2 linked regions of the Homo sapiens genome follow. The protein of the gene in region 2 interacts with the protein of the main gene of each other region in a pairwise test. Each region holds a gene or a part of one and is shown on either strand. Other genes may lie near its edges. The genes, in order: TRAF3IP1 and FGFR1OP2.

Region 1 (16,176 bases), on a different chromosome or scaffold from region 2:
TATACCATGTTGGCCAGGCTGGTCTCAAACTCCTGATCTCAGGTGATCTGCCCACCTCAGCCTCCCAAAGTGCAGGGATTACAGGTGTGAGCCACCGTGCCTGGCTGGAGTTTCTTTAGATGAAAAACAGCTGGACAAACCTAAGGACAGACAGCCAGCTGCCAGAGGGGGCAGGGGAGTGCAGGCCAACCTGGGGAGCAAAGCTCAGTGGGGCGGCTGCAGGACAAGTGTGCTCCAGGAGAGAGAACGCAAAGCCCCCAGGGCCTCAACAGGGGTCAGCTGCCTCCCCAAGGCTGTTTCCACAAAACCTCTCAGGAAAGACTGGAGAAAGTTTGAAGTGTCCCTTGCTGTGCACACCTGAGAAAGACCCTTCTTCCCTATGGGCCCTGTCTCCTACTCCCTTCCCAGCTCCAGCGGGTTTCCCCATTCCCTAAGACTGTCAGGCTTCTCACCTGCCCCTGAACGGTGTCTTCTGTCCCAGAGGGGAGAAGTTTCCAACGGTAGTCATTGCTGGAGGGCACAGAACTACTGCTGGAATCTTCTCCCCTTTGGGACAGAAAATACGGTGCAGGGGCAGCTGAGAAACCTGTCAGCCTTAGGGCACTGGGGGAACCCCTGTAGCTGGGAAGGAATAGGAGACCCTGACTCCTGGGGGAGGGGCAGGAATGCAAGCTGGTTCCAGAGCTACAGCCAAGACCCAGGGACACGGTGTCCACCTAAGACTGGGGTTAATCAAGCAACAGAGTATGCCCCCAACCCAGCTACAGCCAAGACCCAGGGACACGGTGTCTACCTAAGACTGGGGTTAATCAAACAACAGAGTAATGCCCTCAACCCCCCTGCCGGCTGACAAGCACCGGGCAGCAAGAAACAGTGGATTCACGCATGTGCGGCAGAACTACTCAGCATGAGGGAGGAACAGCCCGACTGAGCACGCAAGACTTCATCTATGAACGCAGGATATTTTCATGTTGGGTAATCGAGAATAGCACATTACTAAGCCAAAGGAGACAAAATGCGATCACAAGAACAATTCAACATCCATTCCTGCTAGAGGTTCTCTGTAACCAGGATCAGAAGAGTCTGTTTTTAACACGAGAAAACAGCCGTCGCCATCGTTCCTGGCAGCATCGGACCAATTATAAAATCACAAGGACTGTCCTTCGTATTTGTCCAGCATCGCACTGGGGCAAGGAAGCTATAGCACAGTCAAAAGGCAATCTGGGAATAATATGAACTCAAAACACGAAGTGCTTCTAGAAATCCAGGAGGGAAAACCAAGAGTCCAACAGAACAAAGGGCAAATGAGCAGCTGAACAGTCAGCTCACAGAACAGAAAAGCAAACAAGCAAATGACCCTTAAACACATCAAGAGAGGCTACAACTCAGTCAAAATGCGAAAGTGTAAATGAAAACATGCTGAGATCCTCTTTCTCGCCTGAGCAGTGGAAATGTCTACGTGTGGCCATCCGCCGCTGGAAGGCTGCAGGGAAAAGACACTTCCACATATTTTCTGGTGCAGGAACATGGAACCATCCCACAAACAGCATCTGGCAACACCCACCAATATGGCGACACACTGTGCTTTGACCCTGCAGTCTCACTTCCGGGTATCTCTCCACACAGAAGAAATGATGGGAGAACAAAGCTATTCGCGGCGGCATTGCTTTTAATGGCGGAAGACTAGAAACCACGCGACTGAGCACCAGGGAGCCAGCAGGAGAAGCCAGGCAGCCGCAGGGGGAGATCCACGCAGCCTGGAGAGAAGTGAGGACGGTGTCTAGGGTGGACACTCTGAGGTCCCCAGACTGCATAAATCCGAAAAGCCAAGGTTCAGAACAGGGTATAGACTATGACCTTTTGTGAAACTGTATGTTGCAGGGGTATAAAAGTAAATATTCTTATCTGCTTGTACAAGGGTCTAATGCAAATGGCTGCCTACAGGGGCAAGGAGAAGCAAGGCAGACAGGGACCACGGGAGGGGACCTCTCACAGAGGACCCTTTCAGCTAACCGTGATTGTGGATCCATGCTAATATATTACCTCTTCCATTAAAAGTCCTTTAAATAAGAAGAAATGAATACTTTAGGAATATGAATTAGTTATGCCAACATGAATACCTGGCACGACTAAGGGTGATATTGATACATGATTGACAGTAAGGATAATTTTCTTTAAAAACTTACACATAGCACTATCCACAAAGTGTCATGCCTGGCTGCTGGAGAACATAAATCAGACCCTACCATCGGTGTGCCCAGTGGGGCAGGGCCAGCCCAGCCTTGTTCCACAAGCATCTCCTGGAATCACATGGCTCTGGGTGCCCGGCTTCATCAGAAGACACCCAGAGGTTTCTATGGTGCTTTCGCCAACACCACACGCCCACCAATCTGGACACACACATTTGACTGCATTCATTTACAAGGATGTGATTCTGCCCTGACTGACCAGAGTACAACCTTCTTGTAATATGTGTAATTTAACTTTCTTTTGAACTCCATTTTCTTAACAGAAAGACCAATTTGCTTGGTTTAAGAAACTGATAACCAATTTGGAATTCAGCTCTATATATGGATTTAAAAACAAGTTTTATGTATTATTATTATTATTATTATTATTATTATTATTATTATTATTTTAGAGTGGGTCTTGCTCTGTCACCCAGCCTGGCATGCAGTGGCATGACTATGACTCACTGCAGCCTCAACCTCCTAGGCTCAAGTGATCCTTCCATCTCAGCCTCCTGAGTAACCGGGACTACTGGCACACACCACCATGCCCGGCTTTTTTGTTTATTTTGATGGGGTCTCACTCACTATGTTGCCAGGGCTGGTCGCGAACTCCTGGGCTCAAGTGAGTCTCACGTCTCGGCCTCCCAAAATACTGGGATTACAGGCATGAGCCACCACGGCTGGCCAAAACAAGTTTTATAGTTTTTGTTTTTGTTTTTTTTTTTTTTGAGACAGAGTCTCACTCTTTTACACAGGCTGGAGTACAGTGGCACAATCTCGGCTCACTGCAACCTCTGCCTCCCTGGTTCAAGCAATTCTTCTGCCTCAGCCTCCCAAGTAGCTGGGATTACAGGCACCCACCACCACGCCTGGCTAATTTTTTTTATTTTTAGCAGAGACAGGGTTTCACCATGTTGGCCAGGCTGGTCTCGAACTCCTGACCTCAGGTGATCTGCCTGCCTTGGCCTCCCAAAGTGCTGGGATTACAGGCGTGAGCCACCACACCCGGTCAAGTTCTACAGCTTTAAAAGACATTTAAATTTCTCTTGCTGAATTTAAAAGAAACCAAAGTCCCTCCCAATATCCCTTTATGAAAATACACATAATCAAAAAGGGGTTCTGACTAGGGGGCTTCACTAATGCCCCAATGTAAAGCTTGCATAAACCATACTTATTGAAACACCTTTTAGGAAAATATAAAACATTTTTATTAATAAAGTGTATCCTATGATAGAGTTAAACTCAGAGCCCAAATGTAGCAAGTAGTTACATTTGAGAATCACTGAGAACAGCTATTCCTTCTCCTCCGACTTAGGCTGGCTCATGCTTGACTTAGAATTTTTCTTACTTCTGCTTTGCTACATTAGTCTTTGCTGGAGAGCCCCTCAGAGGAGCCCACAGTGGTCTACGTAGAGGCGCCATGAACAAGGTTATTTACTCTCTGCACTTTCGGGTGTGGAAAGAAGAGTCCAGAGTGGGGAGCCAAGTCCAGGTCTGGGTGTTTAGTGTCTTCCCTGACGGTGACATGCTGAGCCTTGATCCTGCTTGGGCGTGGCCTCCTTCTGAAGCAGGTTCCTGCGGAAGCTCAAACAGGCTGCTCATCCTGCTTGCTGCTGGCTCACACTGGCTACTGATCCCAAAGCTGCTCAAAGGCCCTGGCCATCTTTTCTCTTACTCGTGTGCCATGACACTGTGCACATCGACCAACAGAAGATAAACCCCATCAGTCCAGGGCAGCTCAGAAGACTAGCACCGGAATAGTTCGGGGGCACTCGTTAATACACTGACTAGAATTCCATATCACCCAAATCCTAAGTAGCACTTCATGTCACCAAGTGACATCATTTTTCTTCATAGATTTCAGTTTTTAAAAGTTGATTATTAAAAAGAAAAATAAGGATGAATATCAAAGTAGAAAGCTGCATTTTAGTCTTGAACTATTTCTTCCAAAGGTCTATTATGCATTTCCTTTGAATATAAATTATCATCAGCTCAACTTTTAAATTCAAATTCCTGAAGTATGACTCCAGTACTCCCTGAAAACTTATAAACCAAAGTATAGAAAAATACTTAATAATCCCATTTGTGTATTGTCTCAAAATAAGAGAAAAATTAAATTTCTCAAATTAAGATCAGGATCTAGTGTGTAGGATAAGATACAGTAACAATCACGTGTAGAGACCTTCTAAAACTTCACAAATGATCTTACAATTTCTGATAAATGCTTACCTATCTTATAAAACTTCAATTCATACTGAAAAGAGATGTGTCACAATATGAATGAAAAGATGTATTTCCCTGAACTTTCCTCACGAGAAAAACAAAACACACACATTTGAAAATAAAAAATCCAAATGCTTATGATTTTTCCATGTGTGAATCGAACTGCACAATCCATACACTTATGGAAAAAATATGTGATTATTTTTAATGATTTACGTATAAAAGAAAAATAAACTTTATGATACAATTTGACAGACTACTTCATAAAAAATTTTACTTACATACAATGTATGCAATTTTTGGCAACCCCCAAACTCTATTCACATATACAAATTCATAAAAGGCAGACATCTCAACTTGAAGTAAAACAAGGTCCATTCAGGGTCATGGCTAAGTCATTTGATTCAGTAGAAAAGAGATTATAAATACATGAAGGGCTACTTAACTCATGTCCCTCCACTCCCCCAAAATGTATGTAATATAATCTGATCAAACAGAATTTTATGGTGCACTATAGGAAGGAGAAAAAGACCAGCGTTTCAGAATGGCAGATCTTAATAATCTGCTCCTGAACTTATTCAGCTCAGAAAATCATATAACAACCTGAGTACAGAATTTATTTTGGAAATTGTATGAAGAAAAACCCAACGGTGCCATTTGTGCTAATCCTTAAAGAAACAAAACCTGGCCGGGTGCAGTGGCTCATGCCTGTAATCCCAGCACTTTGGGAGGCCGAGGCAGGCGGATCACGAGGTCAGGAGGTGGAGACCATCCTGGTCAACACGGTGAAACCCCATCTCTACTGAAAATACAAAAATTAGCTGGGCATGGTGGCGTGCGCCTGTAGTCCCAGTTACTCAGGAGGCTGAGGCAGGAGAATCACTTGAACTCGGGAGGCGGTGGTTGCAGTGAGCCGAGATTGCGCCACTGCACTCCAGCCTGGGCGACAGAGTAAGACTCCATCTCAAAAAAAAAAAAAAAAGAAAGAAACAAAACCTTTTCAGGCAATCCTCACACTTTAAATGGCACTCCTCAGTTTACATAATAAATACACTATTTAAAAGTATTAGGACCCAGACCTCAAGACCCATAAGTATGTCTTCAAACACAATGAAATGTTTTATACAGTAACTTAAGACTCTGCTAAGTATTTACAATAGTATATGTAAGTGAAAAACTATAAACCATGTTTTTAAAAAACTTTTGCTTTAAAAAACAATTTCCAAAAAAATGGCTAACATCAAAAAACGTCGTAAATCAGTGCATCCTTTTAAGTCTTCCTTATGTTGTTTTTCCTAAGCTGCCTGTCTCTCGGTATGCACACCCATGCAAAGGAAAAGCCATGGCGCCAATGCTTTGCAGAGCGAGACCCTCTTAAGGAGAACAAGGACTCCGGGGGGCTGCGCTAGCCTCTGTCTGAGGAAAACCAGGGTAAACTGCGGAAGAAAGTGAGGATGTATGTCCAGACAACGTCCATAAAGGCCATCCTGAAATCTCCTTTTTAAATTTATGAACTTTAAGGACTAGAAACACAAGCAAACGATAGTAGAGATCAAGAGGAAAATTACATAGAGAAGTACATGCAATTACAAAGAGGTCAAAAAACAAAAATGAAAACAATCCAGTTGATAGGTACCTGATATGGAGACAGGCTGAGGTTAGCCCTTTCCATTGGAAATTAACTAAAAATATAATGTATTCATTTTCAGGCCTCATTCTACTTATCAAGTGCCTATCAAAAAGTACACAGTCATCCTTCATTCGGCACTGACCTCTGAAAGTCTTTCCACTAAACCAAAATAAAGGACTACTGTTCCCTTGGTATGCCCACACCACTTACCTGCTAGAGAGTTCTGGTACAGAACTAAACAGGTTACAGCAGAAACACAAAGAACAGGCTTTCAAAAAAACTTTTCACAGAGGTGTTTGGAAGCGCTATTTATAACTAGCCAGTATTCCATCTGGAAGGAGGTAAGAAAACATGGTTTTTTTAATACACTTAACATGCTTACAGTTTTAAAGCTCTGAAAATTAGCTGGATAATAACATTGTAAACTGTTCATTTTCTTAGCAAACTGGAACTTAAAAGAGTAATGATTTTCTATCTTCCTTTTTGCTTTTAAACTGAGGTGACTTTTCATCTCTGAAACTTTTGAGTGTTCACCTTCTCGAAGTCAAATTGATACTATATACCATTTTCTGGATTTTTTCTTCATTCTTGAGGATGTTGGCCTTCACAGCACAGATCTTGTCTTGCTGGTCTTTGATCAGCTGCTCCAGCTCCGCGAGCTCAGCCTTTAAGGGCTCCACGGCACAGTCTGTGATCCTGAGGGAGAACAAAACCAGCGGCTCATCACTCTCTCATCTCATTGTGTGTTGGCTTCTTAATTAAGACATTGAAAGACAACAGAAGTAAATTATTCGTTTCATCCAAAGAAAAGGATAATATTTATTTCTTATTTTCACAACCCCTGCTACAACCAAAAGTGAAGTCAAACATGAGATTTATAAAAGCAGCAGTTAATATTTCTTCAATGATAATCTTGAAGTCCTTAAATTACATACAGAACAACCTCTGGGACAAGGAGGTATGCAGCAAAGTCCCCATTGACTTTGGGGATCCCCCCTCCACTACCCCCCACCTATGTTCCTGCCGCAGGGCCTCTTCCCCATTACTGCCCCACTCCGCTACACCCCTACCTCTGCTCCTGCTGCAGGGCCCCCTCCCCATTACCCTCCTGCCCCACCCCAACCTGTTCCTGCTGCAGGGCCTCCTCCCCCATTACTCCCCCCACTCCGCTATCCCCTACCTGTGCTCCTGCTGCAGGGCCCCCTCCCCATTACTCCCTGCCTCTGCTACCCTTAACCTCTGCTCCTGCTGCAGGCCTCCTCCCATTATCCCCCTGCTCCCCCCCACCTCTCTCCTGCTGCAGGGCCCCTCCCCATTATCTTCCCCTCACCTCTGCTCCTGCTGCAGGGCCCCCTCCCCATTACTTCCCCTCACCTCTGCTCCTGCTGCAGGCCCCCCTCCCCATTACTTCCCCTCACCTCTGCTCCTGCTGCAGGGCCCCCTCCCCATTACTTCCCCTCACCTCTGCTCCTGCTGCAGGGCCCCCTCCCCATTACTACACCCCACCTCAGCTCCTGCTGCAGGGCCCCCTCCCCATTACTACACCCCACCTCTGCTCCTGCTGCAGGGCCCCCTCCCCATTACTACCCCTCACCTCTGCTCCTGCTGCAGGGCCCCCTCCCCATTACTACCCCTCACCTCTGCTCCTGCTGCAGGGCCCCCTCCCCATTACTACCCCCCACCTCTGCTCCTGCTGCAGGGCCCCCTCCCCATTACTACCCCCCACCTCTGCTCCTGCTGCAGGGCCCCCTCCCCATTACTACCCCCCACCTCTGCTCCTGCTGCAGGGCCTCGGCGTGCTGCCTGTTCTCGCTGTGCCACATCTGCAGCTCATTCTGCATGGCATCCACGTCTTCCTGGATGTAGTCCATGATCTTCCCCAGGGGAAGTGCGCTCTTGCACAGGGTCTGGATGGACGTGCGGAGCTTCTCTATCTCCTTGGAAACGATGTCCTTCTCCTTCTTCCATGCCGACTCAAAGAGAGATCGCTCCTACAGTCAGGGAGACATAGGAAGAGGAACACGCCTCCTCAGTCCAAAGGCAGAACAGGGCCGGTGCACTCAGCACACGGCCATGGGGCTGGGAGGAAAGGCGCAGGCAGAGACAGTGCTGGTTGTGGGACACTCACTCCCATGCAAAGGGAGAGCCATGCTGCCTAACAGAGTAACTCTGAAGTGCTGCACGCCATCAGAGGACACAGCACTGCCAGGGAGGGGCCGCTCCTTCCCTGCTCAATGGGGATGGGGGTCTGTCTTTACCTGGAAATCCATCTGAGGGCAAATCTCTATACAGGCAGATTTCAGTTCCCAACTAACAAGCAACTTTTGTAGCTATTGTTACAAGAGCTTAGTGACATGGAAGATTTTTCCCAAATGGACTGGCAGAATGAGGGCCTGACCCTACAGCTCTTCAAATGGCCCACCTTCCATCCCAAATGACTTCAAAACCCAGCTTGCCAGGGGGCAAGGGGAAAGAAACCCAAAGGAGAGGCAGAAACTGGTGCCATGGAAAGGAGGGCATGGAGAATGTGCAGGGCAGCCAGCGCCAGCAGCAGCCAGCAGCAGCCAGCAGCACCCAGCAGGCAGATGGTCAGGTCGACTTAGACGTGACTGTGCTGGCCGCTCAGGGAGGCCACAGAGTCCAGGGGTCAGGGGCCAGATGGAAGGGGTCAAGTTGAGACAGCAGCAGGTGAAGGAGGTGAGGAGGACGCAGAGACGAGTGGGGAGCTGCATGCGGTTTGGGCCAGGAGTTCTTGGGTTCTTTGCCATGCAACATTTAGAATTCTCTTCATATGAGCTTTGATCACAGACATCTCTGAATGTCAGAAACTGATGTGAGTTGATAAGAATCAATAAGCTTGGGAAAATTAACATCAGTTCTTTCTCCTTCTTTCCTTTTTTTTTTTAATTTTTTTATTATTATTATACTTTAAGTTTTAGGGTACATGTACACAATGTGCAGGTTTGTTACATATGTATACATGTGCCATGTTGGTGTGCTGCACCCATTAACTCGTCATTTAACATTAGGTATATCTCCTAATGCTATCCCTCCCCCCTCCCCCCACCCCACAACAGGCCCCGGATTGTGATGTTCCCCTTCCTGTGTCCATGTGTTCTCATTGTTCAATTCCCACCTATGAGTGAGAACATGCAGTGTTTGGTTTTTTGTCCTTGCGACAGTTTGCTGAGAATGATGGTTTCTAGTTTCATCCATGTCCCTACAAAGGACATGAACTCATCATTTTTAATGGCTGCATAGTATTCCATGGTGTATATATGCCACATTTTCTTAATCCAGTCTATCGTTGTTGGACATTTGGGTTGGTTCCAAGTCTTTGCTATTGTGAATAGTGCCGCAATAAACATACGTGTGCATGTATCTTTATAGCAGCATGATTTATAATCCTTTGGGTATATACCCAGTAATGGGATGGCTGGGTCAAATGGTATTTCTAGTTCTAGATCCCTGAGGAATCGCCACACTGACTTCCCCAATGGTTGAACTAGTTTACAGTCCCACCAACAGTGTAAAAGTGTTCCTATTTCTCCACATCCTCTCCAGCACCTGTTGTTTCCTGATTTTTTAATGATCGCCATTCTAACTGGTGTGAGATGGTATCTCATTGTGGTTTTGATTTGCATATCTCTGATGGCCAGTGATGATAAGCATTTTTTCATGTGTTTTTTGGCTGCGTAAATGTCTTCTTTTGAGAAGTGTGTGTTCATATCCTTTGCCCACTTTTTGATGGGGTTGTTTTTTTTTTGTAAATTTGTTTGAGTTCATTGTAGATTCTGGATATTAGCCCTTTGTCAGATGAGAAGGTTGCGAAAATTTTCTCTAATTTTGTAGGTTGCCTGTTCACCCTGATGGTAGTTTCTTTTGCTGTGCAGAAGCTCTTTAGTTTAATTAGATCCCATTTGTCAATTTTGGCTTTTGTTGCCATTGCTTTTGGTGTTTTAGACATGAAGTCCTTGCCCATGTCTATGTCCTGAATGGTATTGCCTAGGTTTTCTTCTAGGGTTTTTATGGTTTTAGGTCTAACATGTAGTCTTTAATCCATTTTGAATTGATTTTTGTATAAGGTGTAAGGAAGGGATCCAATTTCAGCTTTCTACATATGGCTAGCCAGTTTTCCCAGCACCATTTATTAAATAGGGAAACATTTCCCCATTGCTTGTTTTTGTCAGGTTTGTCAAAGATCAGATGGTTATCTTCTTCCCTTTCTTTCTTCTCTCTCTCTTTCTTTACAGCCAGGGTCTCACTATGTTGCCCAGGCTACTCTCAAACTCCTGGGCTCAAGTGATCCTCCTGCCTTGCCCTCCCAAAGCGCTGGGATTACAGATGTAAGCCATCATGCCCTGCAACACTGTTTCTTTAGGAAGCCCTCCCTGGACACCCCCCCACCCACTCCAGACCGGTAAGGGGCCCTTCCTTGCCTCACCCACTTACAGAATGAGCTAGTAAATGCACTCAGTTGTAACAAATCAACTTATTTAATTTGAACGTATCATAGCTACATATTCACTTGCATTACTTCTGCTAGTTTCAGACTGTGGGCTCAGGAGGGCAGGACCTTGTGCCTAGATTCACTGTGATTCACATAAGCTCTGCCTAAGAATTTGTGAAATGAACTAATGAAGTGGATAAATGATTTATGTATGAAGATCCTAGTTCCACCATTTACTGGCTTGGACAAGTACAAGAAAGCTTTAGCATAATGCCTGGCACATAGAAAGTGTTAAATAATTGGGACTTTAAGTAAAACGTAAAACTCATACAACTAATAAGTGAGTTCAGCAAGGTTGTAGTATACAAGATGAGCATATGAAAATCAACTATATTTCTATGTATGAGCAATGAAAACATGGACACTGCAATTAAAAATACAATGCCATTGACAATTGTTCAATAGAAGACTATCCTTAGTTGTAAATCTAACAAAACATGTATAGGACTTGGAAATGGAAAACGAAACAATGCAGATGAAAGAAATCAAAGGAAATCTAAATAAATGAGAAGACACACTGTGTCCATGGAATGGAAGACAGGACACAGTAAAGACATGAATTTTCCCCAAACCGATACGCATGTTTAATGCAAATCCTACCAAACTTGCAGCCAATGTTTTTGTATAGACAAGATTATCCTAAAATGTATACAGAAAGGCAAAGGAACTACAATAGCTAAAACATTTTCAGAAAAAGAATAAAGACAGAAATAACCAGTCTACCCAATTTCAAGGCTTTTTTTTGAAACGGAGTCTCACTCTGTCGCCCAGGCTGGAGTGCAGTTGTGTGATCTTGGCTCATTGCAACCTCTGCCTCCCAGATTCAAGCGATTCTCCTGCCTCGGCCTCCCAAGTAGCTGGGATCACAGGCGCACACCAGCATGCCCAGCTAATTTTTGTTTTAGTAGACATGGGATTTCACCATGTTGGCCAGGTTGGTGTCAAACTCCTGAGCTAAGGTGATCCTCCCATCTCGGCCTCCCAAAGTGCTGGGATTACAGGTGTGAGCCACCGCGTAGGCTTCAAGTCTTTTTATACAATTACAGTAATCAAGACAGTGCAGTATTGACAGAGGGACATAGATCAAATGAACAGAACACAGAATCCAAAAGTAGATCCATACGAATATGTCCATATGCCCAAGCAATCTTTGACAAAGGTACAAAAGCAATTTAGTGGCAGAGAGAGCTTTGCACCATTTGGCACTGGGTTAAGTGGACATCCATAAGCCAAAAAACAAACAAAACGTTGACCTAATCTCATATCTTAAACAAAAATTAACTCGAAATGGACTATGGATTTAAATATAATCTATAAAACTTTAAGATAAAAAACACAGGAGGAAAAAGTCTTTGGGATCTAGGACTAGGCAAAGAGTTCGAAGACTTGACACCAAAAGCATGACAAAAATTTCAAATGTTTGCTCTGCGAAAGACCCTGGGAAGAAGCCGCAAAGGTAAGTCACAGAATGAGCAAAAACAACTGCAAATCACACATCCAATAAAGGACTTATAGCTAGAATATGCAAAGAACTCTTAAAACACAACAGCAAGAAAGCAAATAATTCAATTAGAAAATGGGCAAAAGACACATTTCACTGAAGAAGATATAAGGATGGCCAACACACACATGAAAATATGTTTGAAATCATTAGGCATTAGGGAAATGCGAATTCAAACCACAATGAGCCATCACCACACAACAATCAGAATGGCTAAAATAAAAAATAGTGACAACACCAAATGCTGGTTAGGGAAAACTGGATCACTCATTGCTGACAGGAATGTAAAAAGATATGGCCACTCTGGAACACAGTTTGGCAGTTTCCTATAAAACTAAACATGCAACTACAGTATCAACCAACAGTTGTACTCCTGGACACTTATCCAAACAAATGAAAATTCATGTTTATAGAAAAACCTGTATACAAATGCATGCGGATGCTTTAATCAAAGTAGCCACAAACTGGAAACAACCCCCGTGTCCTTCGATAGGTAATTGGTTAACTAAACTGTGGTGCATCCACACCAGGGAAAACTATCTACCAATAAAAAGGAACAGACTGGCCAGGCATGGTGGCTCATGCCTGCAATCCCAGCACTTTGGGAGGCTGAGGCAGGCAGATCACCTGAGGTCAGGAGTTCGAGACCAGCCTGACCAACATGGCAAAACCCCATCTATACTAAAAATACAAAGTTAGCTGGGCGCGGTGGCGCATGCCTGTAATCCCAGCTACTCGGGAGGCTGAGGCAGAAGAATCCCTTGAACCCGGGTGGGGGGGCGAGGTTGCAGTGAGCCGAGATCACGCCATTGCACTCCAGCCTGGGCAACAAGAGCAAAACTCCGTCTCAAGAAAAAAAAAAAAGGAACAGACTGCTAATCCATGGAACAAACTGGATGGCCCTCAGAGGATTAGGAATAAGAAAAGTGAATCCCAAGAGGTTACATGCTGTAGGATTCCTTTTACACAAGATTCTGGAAAGACAAAGTTACAGAAATGGAGAACTGATGGTGGTAGCTGGGGGTGAAGGAAGAGTTCGAGGTGGGGGAAGAGGGTGTGGCTATAAAAAGGCAACAAGAGGGATCTTTGAGGTGATACAAATGTTCTGGATCCTGTTTCATTGTCAATATCCTGGTTGACAATGTACTATGGTTCTGTAAGATGTTATCACTGGGGGAAAGTGGGCAAAAGGCATACAGTATATCTCTATTATTTCTTTTTCTACTATTTTTTCTTTACAGGGTTTCACTGTGTTGCCCAGGCTGAACGCAAACTCCTGGGCTCAAGCGATTCTCCTGCCTCAGCCTGCCAAAGTAGCTGGGGCTACAGGCACGTGCCACCACACCTGGGCGTCTATTATTTCTTATAACTGGATATGAATCTATGGTTATATCAAACGTTTAATTTCTAAAAGGCTATATAAAATGCCTTTAAATTAAGACGCTAAATGACTGAAATGAATTCAATAAAATAAGCTACTTCCCAAGAGAAAAATATATTGTCTTTATTATACACAAATTAGTAAATGTCTCATTGACTTAGTTAAGAAATTCAAACTTCTATTAAAACCCATTCATAATGACTATCAAGTAATTCCTGTGCATTTGGCATCGTGTTAACTCTAATATAAAAATGTTTAGGGCATGGACCTTAAGGTAGGAGACTAATATAAACAAATATCTTACAAAATTGGAGAGTTACAATGTAGAAAAAGACACTAAGAGGTAATCTGGCCAAACTCCTCATATTTCTATTGCACAGGACCAAGCAGAATTTGGAACACTAATCTTAAAGCTTATAATTTATGTTTAAGAGATTAAGACTTTAAAATAAGTACACTTGGGCTGGGATTGTGATAGTCAGGACAGGTTTTATTATTAGCATAAAGGCACTGGAATACATTGCTGCAAAACACCAACACTCTGGCAATTTTCAAGCTTTCATTTAACACAGCAGGGGCAGCGTGAACGCATCAAGCCGTGATTATTTGCTTTAAAAAGCACACCTCTCTGATGACAGACCTCGAGTTATATGTTGCTCATGTAGATATATCAACAATTTTCCAGATAAAAACAACCTTGTTTTTAAAGACTTTTAATCCAATAGTAGTTTGAGGATCTATTACCCCCACACAGGAATTAGATGACTGCCCCTGCTGTGTTAATTATTGAAAATCTGTCATGGCTGGGTGTGTTGGCTCATGCCGGTAATCCCAGCAATTTGGGAGGCTGAGGTGGGCAGATCACTTGAGGCCAGAAATTTGAGACCAGCCTGGCCAACATGGTGAAACCCTGCCTCTACAAAAAAAATACAAAAATTACCAAGGCGTGGTGGTGCACACCTGTAGTCCCAGCTCCTCAGGAGGCTAAGCAGGGAGGATTGCCTGAGCCCAGGAGGAGAAGGTTGCAGTGAGCCAAGACTGTGCCACTGTACTCCAGCCTGGGCAACAGAGCGAAACCCTTTTTTCTCAAAAAAGAAAAAAGAAAAGAAAAGGAAAGGAAATCTGTCATTACACAAAATATGACCTAAAACCACCTAGACCATAGGAGGATTCGGGGGCAGCAGGACCCGCAGTCAGTGCCTTGTGGTTCCAGGGGCTGGTACAACCCAGCCTCACCACCTCCTAACTTTATGACCTTGGAATGACCTCTCTGTACCTCAGCTTCCTCACAAGAAAATGGAAATAATAATATTTATCCTTCAGGTAACATTAAATGGGATAATATAAAGTAAGCAGTTCAGTGCCTCACACATAGTAAACCCTCAAGTAGATGTTAACCATTATCGTAAATTTATTCCCCAGAAAGAAGCAAGTTGCAAGTGCCCCCAGGACAAGGCATGGGTGCTTTTTCCTGTGCACTGATACAGTTATTTTACCTCCTGTCAACTTGTTGGCTATGAAACATTCTTAGCCAGGCATGTTTGGAATACTTTAGCGCACAGTGAAAAAAGTATTTATAGATATTATCAGCACCACCTAACAAGCTGTCATGTCCAGGCAAGTTCTTTCATTAAAATGTAATTTACCTTCCTCATCGACACACTTCCTTCTCCATCTCCATTTTAAGAATATAAATAACCCACAGCTATGAAATTCATCTCAAAGCTCTTTTCTCCGCTGAAAGGTTGGTGATCCTGAGCTCAGAGGAAGTCTGCTGTGAACATCGCAGAACCACCCACGGCACCTTTTTGTGGCACCCTCACCATGGATCCAGTGTCTAAAGGCAGTTTCTCCAAGTTAGGCAAACAGAGAGGTGGCAGCCCACGTGTGTTTCAAGGGGACACAAAGTCACCCCTCTTGTCCCCTCCTGCCTCCTACCTGGCTGGCCTCCCTTTTCCTGCGGGCTAAAGACTGTTTACTCAGCTGCCTTCTGGCAGGAAGGCCTCTGGCAAGGCAGCTCAGCGTTGGGCCACTTCATGTGCTCACGTGCGCACACACTTTTCAGAAAATGCTTCCAAGATTTCTCAAGCGAACAGTTATTTCTGGGACTATTTTATTTGCATTTTACCACACACACACTTGTCCTCAGAAACATGGGCATTTGCACTTCTAGTGATTTTTAAATTTATAGTTATTGATTATAAGTCATATAAATACACATTATTGACCTTAGAGATTTATTTGAATTTCAACTGCAATCCTTCAAGAGAATTATTACTATTATTATTATTATTATTATTATTATTATTTGAGATGGAGTCTCACTCTGTCACCCAGGCTGGAGTACAGTGGTGCAATCTCAGCTCATTGCAACCTCCACCTCCCAGGTTCAAGAGATTCTTCTGCCTCAGCCTCCCAAGTAGTTGAGATTACAGGTGCCTGCTACCACATCTGGCTAATTTCTGTATTTTTAGTAGAGATGGGGTTTCACCATGTTGGTCAGGCTGGTCTTGAACTCCTGACCTCAAGTGATCTACCCACCTTGGCCTCCCAAAGTGCTGGGATTACAGATGTGAGCCACTGCACCCGGCCAAAAGTATTATTTTTAAAATATCTTAAAATAAAATTTAAAAAATGAAGATGGAAATAATAGACACTGAGTACTCCAAAATGCGGGAGGGTTGGGAGGGGGAGGGTTGA
Region 2 (16,176 bases):
ACTTTAAGGTATTTCTATGGTATCTACAATATTGTTTCTACCTTTATGATAGCAGTTATATTAGGCAGCTACCATCAAGCCATCAAGTAGTTAATGTATTCGTTGTTTTTTTTTTTTTTTTTTTTTTTTTTGAGACAGAGTCCCGTTCTGTCACCCAGGCTGGAGGTGCAGTGGCACAATCTCGGCTCACTGCAAGCTCCGCCTCCCGGGTTCACGCTATTCTCCTGCCTCAGCCTCCTGCGTAGCTGAGACTACAGGCGCATGCCACTACGCCCGGCTAATTTTTTTTTTGTATTTTTAGTAGAGACGGAGTTTCACTGTGTTAGCCAGGATGGTCTCGATCTCCTGACCTCGTGATCCACCCGCCTCGGCCTCCCAAAGTGCTGGGATTACAGGCGTGAGCCACCGCACCTGCCCTGTATTCATTGTTTTTAAAAGGATATCTGAGAAACCTCTTTTCTTTGCAGCATTTCAGAGAAGTGGATTATTCTAAAAGCATATCACCTATTCATGTATATATTTACTTTCAGTAAGTTGCTCCATCTTAGTGGAGCACAGTTAAGTCATTTGATCAGTCTGGCTTCTGGTAAGAAATTGAATTTTATCACAGTGACTGATGTACCTGTTGCATATCAAGCCTGATACTGCTGATTTTTGTTTTTAAGATAAAACCCATTAACAAACAGTAAAGTCAGGATTTGGTACTAGAAAATTCAAAAGTTTTGTTTTGGACTTGAATACTTCTTGAGTTATGGAATCACAATCATGAGATTTTCCTTGCAGTAGGTAAAGGTTGCTGGATTAATACTGTTACACAGTGAATGGTAATATGAAAAAGAGAGAGTAGCAATATTTCATGATTACTCAAATGATAGAAATTTTGGATGGTTTCCTTTAGCAATAGGGATTTACTATGCATGGTAACATGAGGTTTAAAGACCTAGAATAACCTCTGAAGATGCTTTGATTAATTCAGTTGAGGTTTATAATTGCTCGGAGGCAGGGAAGCTAAACCTTAGCTGCTGAATTAAGGTATACGATTTTTTTTTTTTCTTTTTTTGAGATGCAGCCTCACTCTGAGGCCCAGGCTGGAGTGCAGTGGTGCTATGGCTCACTGCAACCTCTGCCTACTGGGTTTAAGTGATTCTCCTGCCTCAGCCTCCCAAATAGCTGGGATTACAGGCACCCCCCGACCAGGCCCGGCTAATTTTTGTATTTATTTATTTAGTTAGTTATTGAGACAGCCTGTTGCCCAGGCTGTAGTGCAGTGGTGCAATTTTGGCTCACTACAACCTCTGCCTCCCAAGTTCAAGCAATTCTCTTGCCTCAGCTTCCTGAGTAGCTGGTATCACAGGTGTGTGCCACCACGCCCAGCTAATTTTTGTATTTTTAGTAGAGACGGTGTTTCACCATGTTGGGCAGGCTGGTCTTGAACTCCTGAATTCAAGTGATCTGCCCTCCTCGACCTCCCAAAGTGCTGGGATTACAGGTGTGAGCCACTGCGCCCAGCCCAAGGTATACAATATAATAGACAGTGGGGTTTTGATGTCGTGTTGTTAATACTCCCAGGACACAGGGTACTATTTTTGTACTCAAAAAGATTTATGATTATGTAGGAAGACTATCTAGACTGAGGGCTATTTAGCTATCTGATCATATATAGGACCTTATTGCGTTTTATTTGGAAACAGATCCTGTCTATTGCATTTGTAGATGTTATGTTTTAGTGTGTAAAGAAGGGTTCTTCTTATAGTAGTCCCAACAATATCATTTACAGATTAGGACTGTTAGAGAGTTCTATTACTTGAGTTCTATTAAACCAAGGTAAACTTTATTTTCTCTCAAATCTTTTACAATTTGTTGTAGAGTTTCAAATTTGTCTTTTATTACTTTCACCATCTGTTATAAACTATTATTTTTACTATAAAACCAATTTTTTTGGTTATTTCATTTTTCTTAGTACAAGTCAGTGCCCGTCCTTTTTTTTTTTTTTTTTTTTAATTTTGCTTTACAGACAGCTTTAAAAGTTTACTCAGAAGGATCCGATGTTCTATAGTAATGGGATTAATGGGAGTTATAGTGATGTCCATTTAACCTATTTATGTTAACTTTCTTAACAAATAAGAAAGTTGTCTGTCTACAGTTTTAGATAATTTCCTTTGGAAATTTAGAGGAAGTACAGGGTATTGTTGGGCACTAATGCCTCTCTCAGAACGGCATCTTCGGATAGATTTTGGGTAGTTGTCCTTTTGGGTATTAGCCAGTATCAGACAATATTGGTTCCTTTAATGGCCCTTTTACTCCTCATATTTTCAAGCATCCTTATCTAAACCTCCTGAATCTTACAAGACAAATCTTGTGGTGGTTTTCTCTAGAGAGCCAGAAGTTATATTAATTTCCAGCTTGTTTACTTCTTAAGGCTCTCTGGAAATGTCTGATCATATATTGGACATTTTCTAAATTGGCGATTTAAATAACAGGAGAAAGTCTTCTGAAATTGCCTGATGTGTTTTATGAAATATTTTATACTGTTGAGTTATTTAAATTTTCTCTTTGCTACTTGTTGCTTTTTTTTTTTTTTTGTATTGGAGGGGATAATCATTAATTGGACTAGTTGGTACAGATCTGTAGTCCAGGGCAGTGGTATATAACAAAGTCCTGAATTCTGTGGCAAATTGCTGTTTTAATAAAGTTGATGAAAGTCTTTGTTTATAACCCTTCACTTGGATCTACACCAAATTTTAATTTAACTTCTGTAGACGTGGCTTCTGGCCTGGTAATTTAGTGTGATTTTATTTTTTGAGGAAACCCTGAAGAAAGGATGACTTATATTGAACGTTAGGTAAAACTTAGTAGAAAGATAAAAGATTTCAGCTGGGCACGGTGGCTCACACGTGTAATCCCAGCGCTTTGGGAGGCCAAGGCGGGCGGATCATGAGGTCAGGAGATCGAGACCATCCTGGCTAACACAGTGAAACCCCCGACTCTACTAAAAATACAAAAAAATGAGCCAGGCGTGGTGGCAGGTGCCTGTAGTCCCAGCTACTCGGGAGGCTGAGGCAGGAAAATGGCGTGAACCTGGGAGGTGGAGCTTGCAGTGAGCCGAGATCACGCCGCTGCACTCCAGCCAGCCTGGGCGACAGAGCGAGACTGTGTCTCCAAAAAAAAAAAAAAAAAAAAAGGAAGATAAAAGATTTCAAGGAGGGTAAGTGTAAGTTTCAGGAGAAACTTAAAGTTTTGGAAAGAGACTTTAAAATTATTAAAATTTTGTTTGAGGTTTCTACATACCAGTTGAAGAAGCTGACAATTGACTGTTTCATGTTTTGTCTCATATTTCTTTCAGCTACTCTTAAACATATTGCTTACTGATTTTAGCATATCAGAAGTTTCCTGTAATTACCAGTTTTGTCCTAAGTCAAAACTTTTTTTTGCACTTTAAGGAAGATGCAAGAGTTAGAATTATAATGCAACTTTATGTAAGAAGCAGAAGTTCTTCCAAGAAGAGGTTGAGACTTTAATGTAGCATGACACATTGAGGCCACTTCGGCTGGTCAGCAGTGTTTGTGAACAGTGTGTCAAGTCACCTGACCAAGCAGAGGTTAGGAAGCATTCTTACAGTCAAAGTTTTCAGACAGTCATTGACCCCAGAATACTGACCAGTAAACCAAATGATCTTCCTCAAAAGTGACAAGATAGGGAATGCCCTCATAAAGGGCAAATTTCTATATAACATTATATTCCTTGGACATGTACTTTTTTCCCCACTGTAAATTTAGAGTGTTTTAAATGCGTTCTAGTTCTGTCTGCAAATCTTTTAACTGTGTTCTAATTTTTTTGTAATAGTATAAATTTACTTTCAAGTTTGTAGTATCCTAACAGAAGCAAAACCACAGTGTTCTTAGGTGTTTTTTCCTCCCTGGACAGTGAACAATACTGTAACAAATGTGGCTTAAGAAGCATATCTGTGTTGACATGAAGCTAAAATAAAGAGATATGTTGACTTTATTTTGAGTCTTGATTTTAATTTTAATTATAGATATATCTTTAGAAATGAGTTGCACAATTGAGAAGGCACTTGCCGACGCTAAAGCTCTTGTTGAAAGATTAAGAGATCATGACGATGCAGCAGAATCTCTGATTGAGCAAACCACAGCTCTCAACAAGCGAGTAGAAGCCATGAAACAGGTTTGATTTTTCTTTCTTGTTCATTCCATTTATCAAAAGCAGTCATTGACATTTATGTATTGCTGGCTAATTAGTATCTAATTTTTTTCAACATTCTCTAAAATTTTAAAGTAGCTTGACTTGTGTGTTTCAGGTTTACTTTAATTTTGTCGTGTTCAGGTGATATACCTAGACATATATTTCTAAACCCTAGATTTGATCACTTATTTTGCTGACAGAGTTGCACATTTGAGTTTAGAAAATAAATGAATTTGTTAGGTCTAGAAACATTTGACAAAGACCAGATAATACCTTTTACTAATGTTGGTACACATTTTGTTCTGTCTTGTATAATGTAGAAATGTTCATATTTTTCTTTATAAAAGTACTTAGGTGATGCTGTTTAACAACAAAATAGCTTTTGAAAATGATGCAAGGTAATATGTGATTTATACTCTGTGCAGTTATTGTACCCATACTTGCTACCTTATTTTTCATTCAGTGCTACCAATTAAAGAATACATAAGGGCTTTCTTCTTGCTATTTTTACTATTGTATAACAGAATATTCCCATGGGCCACGGAGTTTAGACACTATTTTAACCTTCTTCTGATAAAAATTTTCAAGTCATTTAAGAAAATTATAAAATCTCTGACATTATGATGGAAATCAGAGGGGGAAAATGTATATTCACAGCCAAATCTCCTCATCTATTTTGTAAAAGGAAGCAATTCTGGGATAGTATTTTTAACAAAGCTACTGGAAATAGTGGAGCAAGTTTAGTTATTTGGTTTTACAACTGTGTTGCCCTAAACAGATTTACCTGCATCCCTAACCAACTGTCCAGCTAGACTCAGGCACTTCAGTGAACATATATCTGGTATTGAGTTGTTAAAAAAGGAGTTTGACATCTGAAGTTAAGAACCAGGAGTGTTATAATGAATATGTTACTAAGTGTCTCATGAGAATGCCTTGAAAATAAATAAGTGCAATTTTAAAATAAGATTCTCATTTTCTTAATGGAAAATCTTTTTGCATTTCTTTTGTACATGTTCTATTAAGATATTCACATACCATAAAATTTACTTTTTTGAAGGGTACAGTTCATTGGATTTTAGTACACATTTGCAGGTTATGCAGTATAACCACTACCTGATTCCAGAACATTTTCATCACCACAAAACCTTACATCCATCAGTGGTCTCTCTCTAGTTTCCCCTTTCCTCAGTCTCTGGCAACCACTAATATTTCTATCTCTTTGAATTTGCCTATTCTGGACATTTCATATAAATGGAATGATAAAATATGCGGCTTTTTGTGATTGGCTTCTTAACATAATGTTTTTAAGGTTCATCTATGTTATAGCATGTATCAGTACTTCATTCCTGTTTATTGCCAAATAATATTGCATTGTAAGGATACAGCACATTGTGCTTATCCATTCATCAGCTGATAGGCATTTGGATTATTTTACTTTTTTGGCTGGTAAGAATATGCTGCTATGAATATTTGTGTACAAGTTTCTGTGTGGACATATGTTTTCAGTTTTCTTGGGTATATATGTAGAAGTAGAATGGATGGGTCATATAATAACTCTGTTAAAATTTTTTGAGGATCTGCCACATTGTTTCCCAAAGCAGCTATGCCAAGCTTGTCCGACCTGTGACTTGCTGGCTGCATATGGCCCAGGATGGCTTTGATTGCGGCCCAGCACAAATTCACAAACTTTCTTAAAACATTATGAGATTTTTTTTTTTTAAAAAAAAGCTCATCAGCTATCGTTAGCATTAGTGTATTTTATGTGCAGCGTGATAATTCTTCTTCCGATGTGCCCAGGGAAGCCAAAAGATTGGACACCCCTGAACTACATCATTTTACATTCCATCAACAATGTATGGAAGGTTGCAGTTTCTTCACATCCTCTCCAACAATTGTTATTGTCTTTTTCATTACAGTCATCCTCGTGGGATATATTGAATTGCATTCTCCTAATGACTAGTTAGGTTAATTAAGTATCTTTTCATGTGCTTATTGGCCATTTGTATATCTTCTTTAGATAAATGTTTATTCAAATCCTTTGCCACTTTTAAAAATGGGGTTATTTTCATTTTATTGTTGAGTTGTAAGTGTTCTTTATATATTCTGGATACTAAGCTCTTATCAGATTTTTTATATGTATATTTCAGATATATTTATATTTATATATCATATATATATATATATATATATTTGCAGGTATTTTCATCCCACATGTTTTTCTCCCCCATTAGTATCAGGAAGAAATTCAAGAACTTAATGAAGTCGCGAGACATCGGCCACGGTCCACGTTAGTTATGGGAATCCAGCAAGAAAACAGACAAATCAGAGAGTTGCAACAAGAAAACAAAGGTAAGATACGTTACTTTTTGACATTAATCCCATTTCTAGTCTATATTCCTAAATCGTATTTATTGCTCTTTATCCTGTCCCACATATGAACATCTGCCTGGTTGACATCCTCTTAGATTCTCACCCTTAATATCCAGTTAGCACTGCTGTTGTTAGCTATGAAATAACCCAGCTTCATTCTCTGCAGTCCCACTGCATTGGCCCCCAGATTAGATGCTCAGTCTCTTGCCTGAAATGTCCAAACTGATCTCCCTGATTCCAGTCTCTCTTCCCCCTTCCAATCTGTCTTCAACATAACCATCAGATTGATATTTCAAAAATCAGTCTGATCATGTAATTCTTTTGCCTAAGAACTTTCATTATATACTTATTACCTTTTACAGGGTCCCTAAAAATCATTTCCCAGCCTTTTTTTTAAATCTTCTTCCCACAGCTTTCTTCACTGTGAACTCTTTGCTCTTGCCAACACCAATCACTTCCTAAACACGTCATCTGTTTTCATGCCTACCTGCTTAGAAGGTCCATTCCTTCACTTTTCAACTGAGGGAACTCACACTGTACTTCTACAAAGCTTCCACCAGTTTCTTCCCATAGACATCTCTTAAATCTATTTGACTTAACACTCCACTCTGCCACCTACCACATGCTTGTTTTCTCTACTAGACTCTTGAGGTCTGTGGCCCTTAATATAGAGGGAGCCTTGGCCGATATTAATTGCTGTTTAGTACATCTTTGTTGAAATGATTCTCAAGAAACAAGCTTAAAATATTCAAAAAACTAATACGGGACTTCATTTGGTGTCTCTTATTGTTATATGGCTAGATTTTTGTGCATTGTGTTTTCTTTTTAAAATGTCCCGTTCATAAGTTGCTTAGTGGAAGAGAATATTTTGTGTACTTTTAACTCAAGTTGGAATAAAATACAATATTATTCTTGATAGAATTACGTACATCTCTGGAAGAACATCAGTCGGCCTTGGAACTTATAATGAGCAAGTACCGAGAACAAATGTTTAGATTGCTAATGGCTAGCAAAAAAGATGATCCGGGTATAATAATGAAGTTAAAAGAGCAGCACTCCAAGGTAATCCATTCTATAAATGTGACCTGAAATGGAAAAGAGAGACGATTGATTATTCTGTGTTCAGATTTTTTTTGAAAAAAATCACAGGTATCTAGTAATGGCATTTTAACATGATGTTGAATGTTTCATCTTTTTAATTGACATTTTCTCCTTTTTCTTATTTTTCCATTTCTTGTTATATATCATTTTCTGTTTGATTTATAAACTCTCACTGTTTCTTAGAAACTTTAATTTGTACGTTGAAAAATAAATTTTATTTTGGATATAAAGGTAAGTCTGGTCTCTTCAACATTATTTTTGTAGGGCTATATACTTTTAAGAAATATTTCTTAAAGGGCTGGGCATGGTGGCTTACGCCTATAATCCCAGCACTTTGGGAGGCCAAGGCAGGAGGATCACTTGAGGCCAGAAGTTCAAGACCAGCCTGGGCAACATAGCATGACTCCATCTCTTCAAAAAGTAAAAAAATTAGCCGGGTGTGGTAGCACATGCCTGCAGTCCTAGCTTCTCAGGAGGCTGAGGTGGATAGACCACTTCAGCTCAGGAGTTTGAGGTTACATTGAGCTACGATCATGCCATTGCACTCCCATCTAGACAACCGAGTGAGACCCTGTCTCTTAAAAAACAGAAATTTTTTTAAGAAACATTTTTTCTAATAAATTTGTGTATTGACTTCTCTTGCAAAAACAAAAAATAATGGAAACCTTTTTTAAAATCTGAAAGCAGTTTAATGTAGATTTTTCTTAAGACTGTTTTCTGAATAAGGCTAATTCATCCAGACTATAAATGATCTTGTTTATTATAATGGAAAAAACATGGGGTTCAGGAGAAGAACCAACATAGTAAAATTTTGCTCCCTTGCCCCAGTATTGTATACCAGTTGACATCATTTTTTAGAAACAAAGCTGAAGTAGTTAGAAATTAGTGTTTTACCTGCTGTTCATCCCTTTGTCATCCCTGTGTCTATTCCCTTTGGTATGTCCCCATATTTTATGGCATATTTTATGGCAACTGCTATGAAGACAAGTAGAATAATCCTTTCTCACATATTTATTTTAAACTGAGTTTTAGTTGCTGATATGAAATAAAAATAATAAACTAGATTGTGGAAACTAGACTGTTACCTGTATTAGATAATGGTGAGCTGACTATTATTATTACCAATATTATTTAAGAAACAGTGATTATGAGCCTTCTTTTCCCCATTTGTTACAACAGAAATAGGAAAGGACATATTTTCATATTTATCTATTATTGAAACACATTTTAGATTCTTTAAAATACTTCTTCCATTTTGGTGCTTGTACGTGTTTTTAACTTATTAGTAATTAATTCTATTAGAATTAAATACCTATCAAATAGCTCTTTATATGCCTTTATTATATTAGAAAACCTAATGATAGGTACCTCTTGTGTCAACCAGTAAAATAATAAATTAAATTAAAAATTTGTGTTTAATGTTTTCTAATTATGCTATTCATCTCCTAATCAAATGGCAATCCAGGGATGTTTAAGTGGTGATCTTTTGAATACAAAATTTAACTATTGTTAATGAGACCATTCTAAAATCATTTAAATTTAAAGGTATAATAATAACTATAGTAACTAAGACTTTTTAAAGGCACTAAAAGGAGTTGACTTAATATTATTTGTAAGATAAATATAATCTTGAGAATTTCTAAAAGGTTTGTATGTTTTATAACCTAAAAATAAAATGTTAAAGATCTAAAGCGAAGAATACCATTACAAAAAAAGTGCTTAGAATAGGATAACTATAGCTTGCAGGTCCCATCTGGTAGCAACTATGACAGAAGCAAATGTTTCCTAAAATATATTAGATTTTACTATTCACCAGAGCTGGTTTATTAATTAGTAAGGTTAAACATTTCCTAAGATAGCTGTAAGCCATCCTTTTTTATTATGTAGATTGAATTCTTCATCTAAGTTCAGATGATCCTTGCCTCCCATAAAATGACTATTCAGTTATTTGTTATTAATTTTCACTAATACATATTAATGTTTGTGATTTTGATTTTTCCCAAAAAGGAGACACTTCGACTTAATTAAACAAACATTAATACTGGCACTGGGTTAGTTATGGGAAATAATAAGATGAATGTACAAGCTTGCAGTATAGTGGGAGATACAGACACAAACATAACAATCTACTATAAGGTAGGGCGTGATGAATCCCAAAGTAGATGAATTGTTACTGGAACGCTAGAGGGAACAATATTAACTGTCATAAGGAAAATCTGGAAAGGTAACAAGGAAGGGAAGAAAGTCTGTCTCAGTCCAGCCTTGAATTAATTATGGGCAGGTAGGTAAACAAGCAGAAGTGGGTGGGTGGGCAGAGAAACTTGTATAATAAAAGCACAAAAAGTATGGTATTGTAGGGTGTGTTTAGGTACTAGTGCTCTGATATGCCTAAACACAAAAGTAATTTTACAACACATTTAGAGCTAAGAAACAGAGTTACACATAACAGCATTTTGGATTGGAGTAAGAGATCCTTTTGAGACTGTTATAATACAGAACTTTGCCCTTAACTAGAAGTTTTTGAGCACATACTTAAAAAATCAGTAGAAAGTTTGAGAGCTCATTTTTACCCAAATACTAATTTTCATGTTATTTTTGAACAGATGCCTTTTTGGAAATCTTAAAAAAGCAAACATTTCAAACAGTTGGCTAACACGCATGAACTAACACTCATTCAGTTTTTAAATTACGGATGATATCCGTATTAACATTATAATGACTCTATACTACAGATTGACATGGTACATCGTAACAAGTCCGAAGGATTCTTCCTTGATGCATCTCGACACATCCTTGAAGCACCTCAACATGGACTGGAGAGAAGGCACTTGGAAGCAAATCAGAATGTACACTAAATAAACAGTCAACTTTTGGGGTGTGGATGGAAGGGGGGTCCATTTTAAAAGTGCTTTTACATTGAATTTCCCTCCCAGATTAGATCAGCAAATAAATGAAATTTATTAAAAGAATGTTGTGTCTTTAATAGCCATGCTGTTCAGTGTAGAAACTTTAAATCTCTCATTAATTTTCTGTGTATTGTATCATGTACAGCCTGTTAGATATTTGCAGGTTTTATAGGTTATTCAGTCCAACGCTTTATTTATTTGCTCTTGTTAGTTGTTGCTGTGAAACAGTCATTTCCTTTCTGGACATCAAAGATATTTTCTTGGCATTAATTTTAAACTGATTTCATAAGGTCAAAGTATTAAATGTTTTAATTCAGATTGTGGATAGTTTGTAGTCCTTTGATTTTGCAAATGAAATTAAAATGCCTTTGTTTAGATGTTAGGATTAAGTATAGTAGTGCTCTCTCCATTGTGTCTTAATTTTTTTTTAACTCACTTGTGGCAGGTCTTTATTGAATAAAGGAGGAATAAACCTAGACAGGGAGTTAGAAATGAAAGACATTTCAAGACAGTTCAAGGGTTATGTTGGTGACACTTCTTGTCTTCCAGACAGTTTTGAAAGCACAGATCTTGCCTCTTGTGCTTGTTAAAAAATCTGTGATACTTCTCTGAAGATTTTATAATTAAATAAGTGAACCATTACCATGACCTTTTATAAAAGTGCTGCCCTATTTGAAGTATTGGGTTTTTTCTCATGATGAGCTTTGTTAGACTTGGTACTGAAAAAATCAGTAGTTTTTTTCCTTCTATTTTAAAGGCAAAGAAATGCTTGCTTCAGCTAGGCATGGTGGCTCATGCCTGTAATTGGGAGGCTGAGGTGGGTGGATCACCTGACGTCAGGAATTGGAGACCAGCCTGGCCAACATGGTGAAACCCCATCTCTACTAAAAATACAAAAAGTTAGCCAGGCGTGATAGCGGGTGCCTGTAATCCCAGCTGCTCGGGAGGCTAAAGCAAGAGAATTGTTTGAACCTGGGAGTGGGAGGTTGCAGTGAGCCGAGGTCGTGCCATTGCACTCCAGCCTGGCCAACAAGAGCGAGACTCTGTCTAAAAAAAAAGAAATGCTTGCTTTCTGTGTAGTTTTTTAACTTAGGTCAGTGCCATAGGACTGACCAAATCATAAATTGAGGATGCTGTTGGTATTCAAAGTTTTTACTCATTACCCTTACTCAGTTTGCAGCTGCAATGATCTGTACTTAACCTGCTTTTACATATTATGCTTCCTTGACAATGGGAGGAATTTTAATGGTTAACTTGCAGAATATGACAGATACTTGTCTTAATATCATTCTTCCTACCATAATCTAATTCAAAACTATCCAGTAGAACTTTCTGAAATGATTGGAATGTTTTTTATCTGTGCTGTCCAGTGTGGAAGCCAGTAGCCACATGTGGCTGTTGAGCACTTGCAGTGTCACTAATGCGTTTGAGGGACTGAATTGTTAATTTTTAAAAATGTATTGATTTTAATTAAGTTTAACATTGTTTTGGACAGCACAGATTAGCCTTTTAGAGTACCTTCTTGCTGAGTACTAGCAGTGTATAGGTTTCCCCATGAAAAGGACCTACATTTTTGTTGGTTAAGAGGTTATTAAATGTGCTTTGCCAAAGATACTACCTTGTCATTTCTTCCAGCTTATTAGTTCCGTGGGTTTCTTGGAGTACTGTTAAATCCTTTTTACAAATATATATATACACAACTACTGAAGAGACTGTTTATTTGGGGAGTTATTCACTTTTATATTTAAGTCTTAGGCTTAATATGATAAAATACCTCTCAGTTGCTGTGAATAATGGTCTATAGAAGCTGTTCATTGAGAAAATGATTATTCTCGAGTTTCTGTTGATTTTAAACCTTTTTTGTCTGTCTCTTTCACTAGACTGTAAGCTTCTTCAGATCAGGGGACATGTCTTGACAGTCTTTGTATTCCTGTTGTTTAGCATAGTACTGGCACATCATAGGTGTGCAAGATAAGAAAATGAGATTGGAAGAATTTATGCTACTTGCTGCGCCTAACAAATGTGGATGTCTGTATTATACTGATACTATATTTTCAATAGTTAGCAAAGAAGGCCATTTAATATTTTAATACTGAAAAGCAGAATTGTGCTCATTTTATTCAATACTTACCATATACCATACACTAGATAGTAGGTGGATGTAAAGATGCAGTTCCTGCTCTCAAAGAGGATTATGACCTAGAAAAGGTTACAGATTGGATTGAGATAACTTTATAGGCCTGAACAATACAGAAAAGATTTCTAAATCATTGAAGACTTCAGGGAGGAAAAGAGATTGAATGCGTCGGCAATTTTTATCATTCCCGTTACTTTGAACAATAGTGTATGTAAGTGCAAAAAAAAAGAAAAAGTTGCTGATCATTGTGGTGAGAGGAATGTAAAATATGAGTATTTTTCTTGCTGCTAGGTTTAGTTATATTGTGCTGCTTATTCTTAATTCTAGTCCTAACAAATTTGATTTCAAAAGCACATCTGTGGTCAACCAACTTCATTGTTAATATTTGTTTTATTCATATTAAGTGACAATGTAAGAATATTCATGTTAAGTGGTACTGCAGATTTTATAAAAAGGAGAGGATCCAAAAATAAAAAAGTATTTTGCTGATTTCCAACTCCCATCCCTCTTTTTCAGGAACTGCAAGCACATGTTGACCAGATAACTGAAATGGCAGCAGTAATGAGGAAAGCCATTGAAATTGACGAGCAACAGGGTTGCAAGGAACAAGAACGAATATTTCAACTTGAAGTAAGTTTTACATTGCAAATGTAGATGAAAACTGTCCATATAAAGATTTATGCCAGAAAATATATCCCATTTTTAAATATATATTTACTCTTCTTGGGTACTGGTAATGTTCTCCTGGATGCTGTCTATGTGGGCATATTATGCAAGACCATTTATGTGGTGATGCAAGAATCTAGGATTATTAGTAACTTACAATATACCAGTAATGTAGAAAATTGATGTTTCATTCTATATTGCTTATCTTATGAAGTGAATGTACTTCTTCAATTGAGTCATTTTTAAAATTTTGTTTATTCTATTAGAGATCATAGTGATACAGGGAAATTTTTTTTAATCCACAAATATTTAGGGGCACTCTTATTTTTCTGGGGATTCTAAAAACCTTTGTCATCTGTCCTTTATTTTATGACAGTGAAAGTACCAGTCTCTGAATAACTGAAATCAGTACAATAGACTTTTATGCCTTAAGAGCTTCATTTTGAAATCACGGCGGGGAACCTGCTTTAGACTACTAAAATTTAGAAAGTGAGACTGAAGATAAAGTGATAGAGAACAAATTATGAAAGGTTATTGTTAAATGTCTACAAATTTTTTTACAGTAACTAACCAAAAGGAGGCCAGAAAGCAAAGTTATTTACCAGTGCCAGATTTGGTCACTTACTTTCCTTCTTGAAAAATATCATCAGCTACCCCTACCCTGCTGCTCTCAAATGCCAATGAGCTAAACTTGTCCTACATTCCATGCTATCATGGAAAGTAATAAAAATACTAAAAATTACTAGGAGATTCTAGCCTATTCACTGGCTTTACGAGTTTATATAAAAATAAATCTAGATGTTATTTTCTTCATCTCTAATGTGATTGTAAAATAAGGCAATTTCTGAGCTTCTGTTTACAATTATAGCTGCTTAAGTAAGAAGGCTTTGCAGTGGTGGAAGATGTTGAACACGATTCCTAGCTGCATAAGTGTTCTTTAGATTCAAGTTGCCAACTGCATATATCATTGAGTAGATTAATGCCAATTACAGACCTTGCTTGTTTGTTATACCTTCATATGTTCAGTTTTTCCTAACATATGTTTGTGATGTTGTAGCTACCTTGTAGATAGTGACTGCATCTTTGTTTTTGCTTGCCTTTTAGCAAGAAAACAAAGGCTTGAGAGAGATCCTTCAAATAACTCGAGAATCATTTTTGAACCTAAGGAAAGATGATGCGTCGGAAAGTACTTCTTTGTCAGCATTAGTGACCAACAGTGATTTGAGTCTGAGGAAGAGCTGAAGAGTTTCTGAGTCTGTGAGCTTCTTACATGGCTCCAAATGGTCAAATAAGTGAATGAATGAATGGACAGAAAATTCAATCCTTTATTTTTTTCTCTGTAAATATGTACAGTGCACGGGCTATGAGATAGCAACAAAAAATGCATAGTTAATGGTCATAGACTTTATTCCAAAACATAATTGGAAAATAGAAACTGAGCCATTGCCAAATGGTAAAGAAATGAAAAGTTTTCACAGTGACTACTGAATATACCAAGAGCTTTTGGCAGTACTGCTGGCTTTCTGGGTGATTAATTAGGTAAACTTGAATATTCCCAGTAAATGTTTGAGAATGCATAAAATTATACCAATTTAAAAATATAAATTTTTGCCACTGTTTTGTGAACGGAGGATTTGTACGCTAAATTTCATCCTTATTTGGCGTCAAAGTTGATGCAAAGTTTATGTACCATGAGACTTCTAGTGATTGCCTACTTTCACATTTATTTAAATTTTTGTGAAAGAAAATACAGTTTTAAAGGCTATAGGAATGTGTTATATGTACCTTAAACAGATAATTTAATTTTAGCAATTTATCATAACTGATACTTAGCTAACAATTGTCCATAACTTGTTTAAGTGTAAGAAATACCATTTCAGGAATGAAAAAGAAGGAATACTACTTTCTAAGAAAGAAGATCTTATAATAGACATATTTAGTAGGTTAAACTACTCCTTTGAAAGAATAAGTTTTGGTTCAAAGTCAATAATGAAGACGAGATTTGTTTTTCTCTTCTCTGGCTGATTTTTAAGGATATTATGTAGTTCATTTAGTTAACAGAATTGAAATGTTTGATATGGCAAGATAGGTATGGTAATTTCAAAGTGAATTGGGAATTCCTCTGGCTCATAGAACCCTTTTTTTTTTCCTTTAAGTATTCTTGAGATACAAAAAAAAAAAGTAAATACAATTTCAAAAAAAAAGTTCCGGATCTGTTTTTAAGCTCCATCTGGTCCTCATAACCTGCAAGATTTTTCTTAAAACCTTTCAGCTGAAAGTGGGGGTAAAGGTGGAGTAATCTGTGGATTTGTTTCTGTTGTCTTTTAAAATGTCAAATATATAATATGTAATTTTTTTAAAAACCACCAGATACAGAAATGTGCTTTAACATCAGTTGAAACCTAAATTTTCTTATGTTGTGGTGATTGTATTAAAAAGGGATAAAAGAAGAGTGTCAAACATGGTTAAATATATTGTACTCATTTATGTTGAATACGTATTAAAATTAAGACAAATGGAAAATTATACTTTGAGTATATAATTTGTTAAATATTACTTTATATGGTAATTTTATGTATAATTTCATATATTGGTAAAATTCAAAACTACACTTGAGAATTTTTTTATCTTAAGTTTGGGGTGAATGGGGTGGATGAGACTGATTGAATAGAAAAGGGCTAATGGCCCAAACATTATATAGATTTCTTTTTTTCAGTCAGAGGCCTTATTTGATATTTTATAAATAAATGACAGTTTTTATTTTTAAACTTTTTATTGTTTTTGGGAAAGTAT

The links.
Region 1: the proteins of FGFR1OP2 (region 2) and TRAF3IP1 interact in a two-hybrid assay, tested with the Homo sapiens proteins (2 studies listed by IntAct).

Annotation. Positions count from the first base shown.
Region 1 is NC_000002.12:238,389,358-238,405,533, reverse strand, and holds the end of TRAF3IP1 (TRAF3-interacting protein 1), read right to left. Parts: intron 8,076-16,176; coding exon 7,855-8,075; intron 6,781-7,854; coding exon 6,615-6,780; 3' UTR 4,637-6,614; downstream 1-4,636.
Region 2 is NC_000012.12:26,950,109-26,966,284, forward strand, and holds part of FGFR1OP2 (FGFR1 oncogene partner 2), read left to right. Parts: intron 1-4,036; 5' UTR 4,037-4,050; coding exon 4,051-4,185; intron 4,186-6,434; coding exon 6,435-6,552; intron 6,553-7,492; coding exon 7,493-7,635; intron 7,636-10,406; coding exon 10,407-10,520; coding exon of another isoform or gene 10,521-10,529; exon of another isoform or gene 10,530-10,643; intron 10,644-13,233; coding exon 13,234-13,347; intron 13,348-14,487; coding exon 14,488-14,625; 3' UTR 14,626-16,176. UniProt on the Homo sapiens protein: May be involved in wound healing pathway.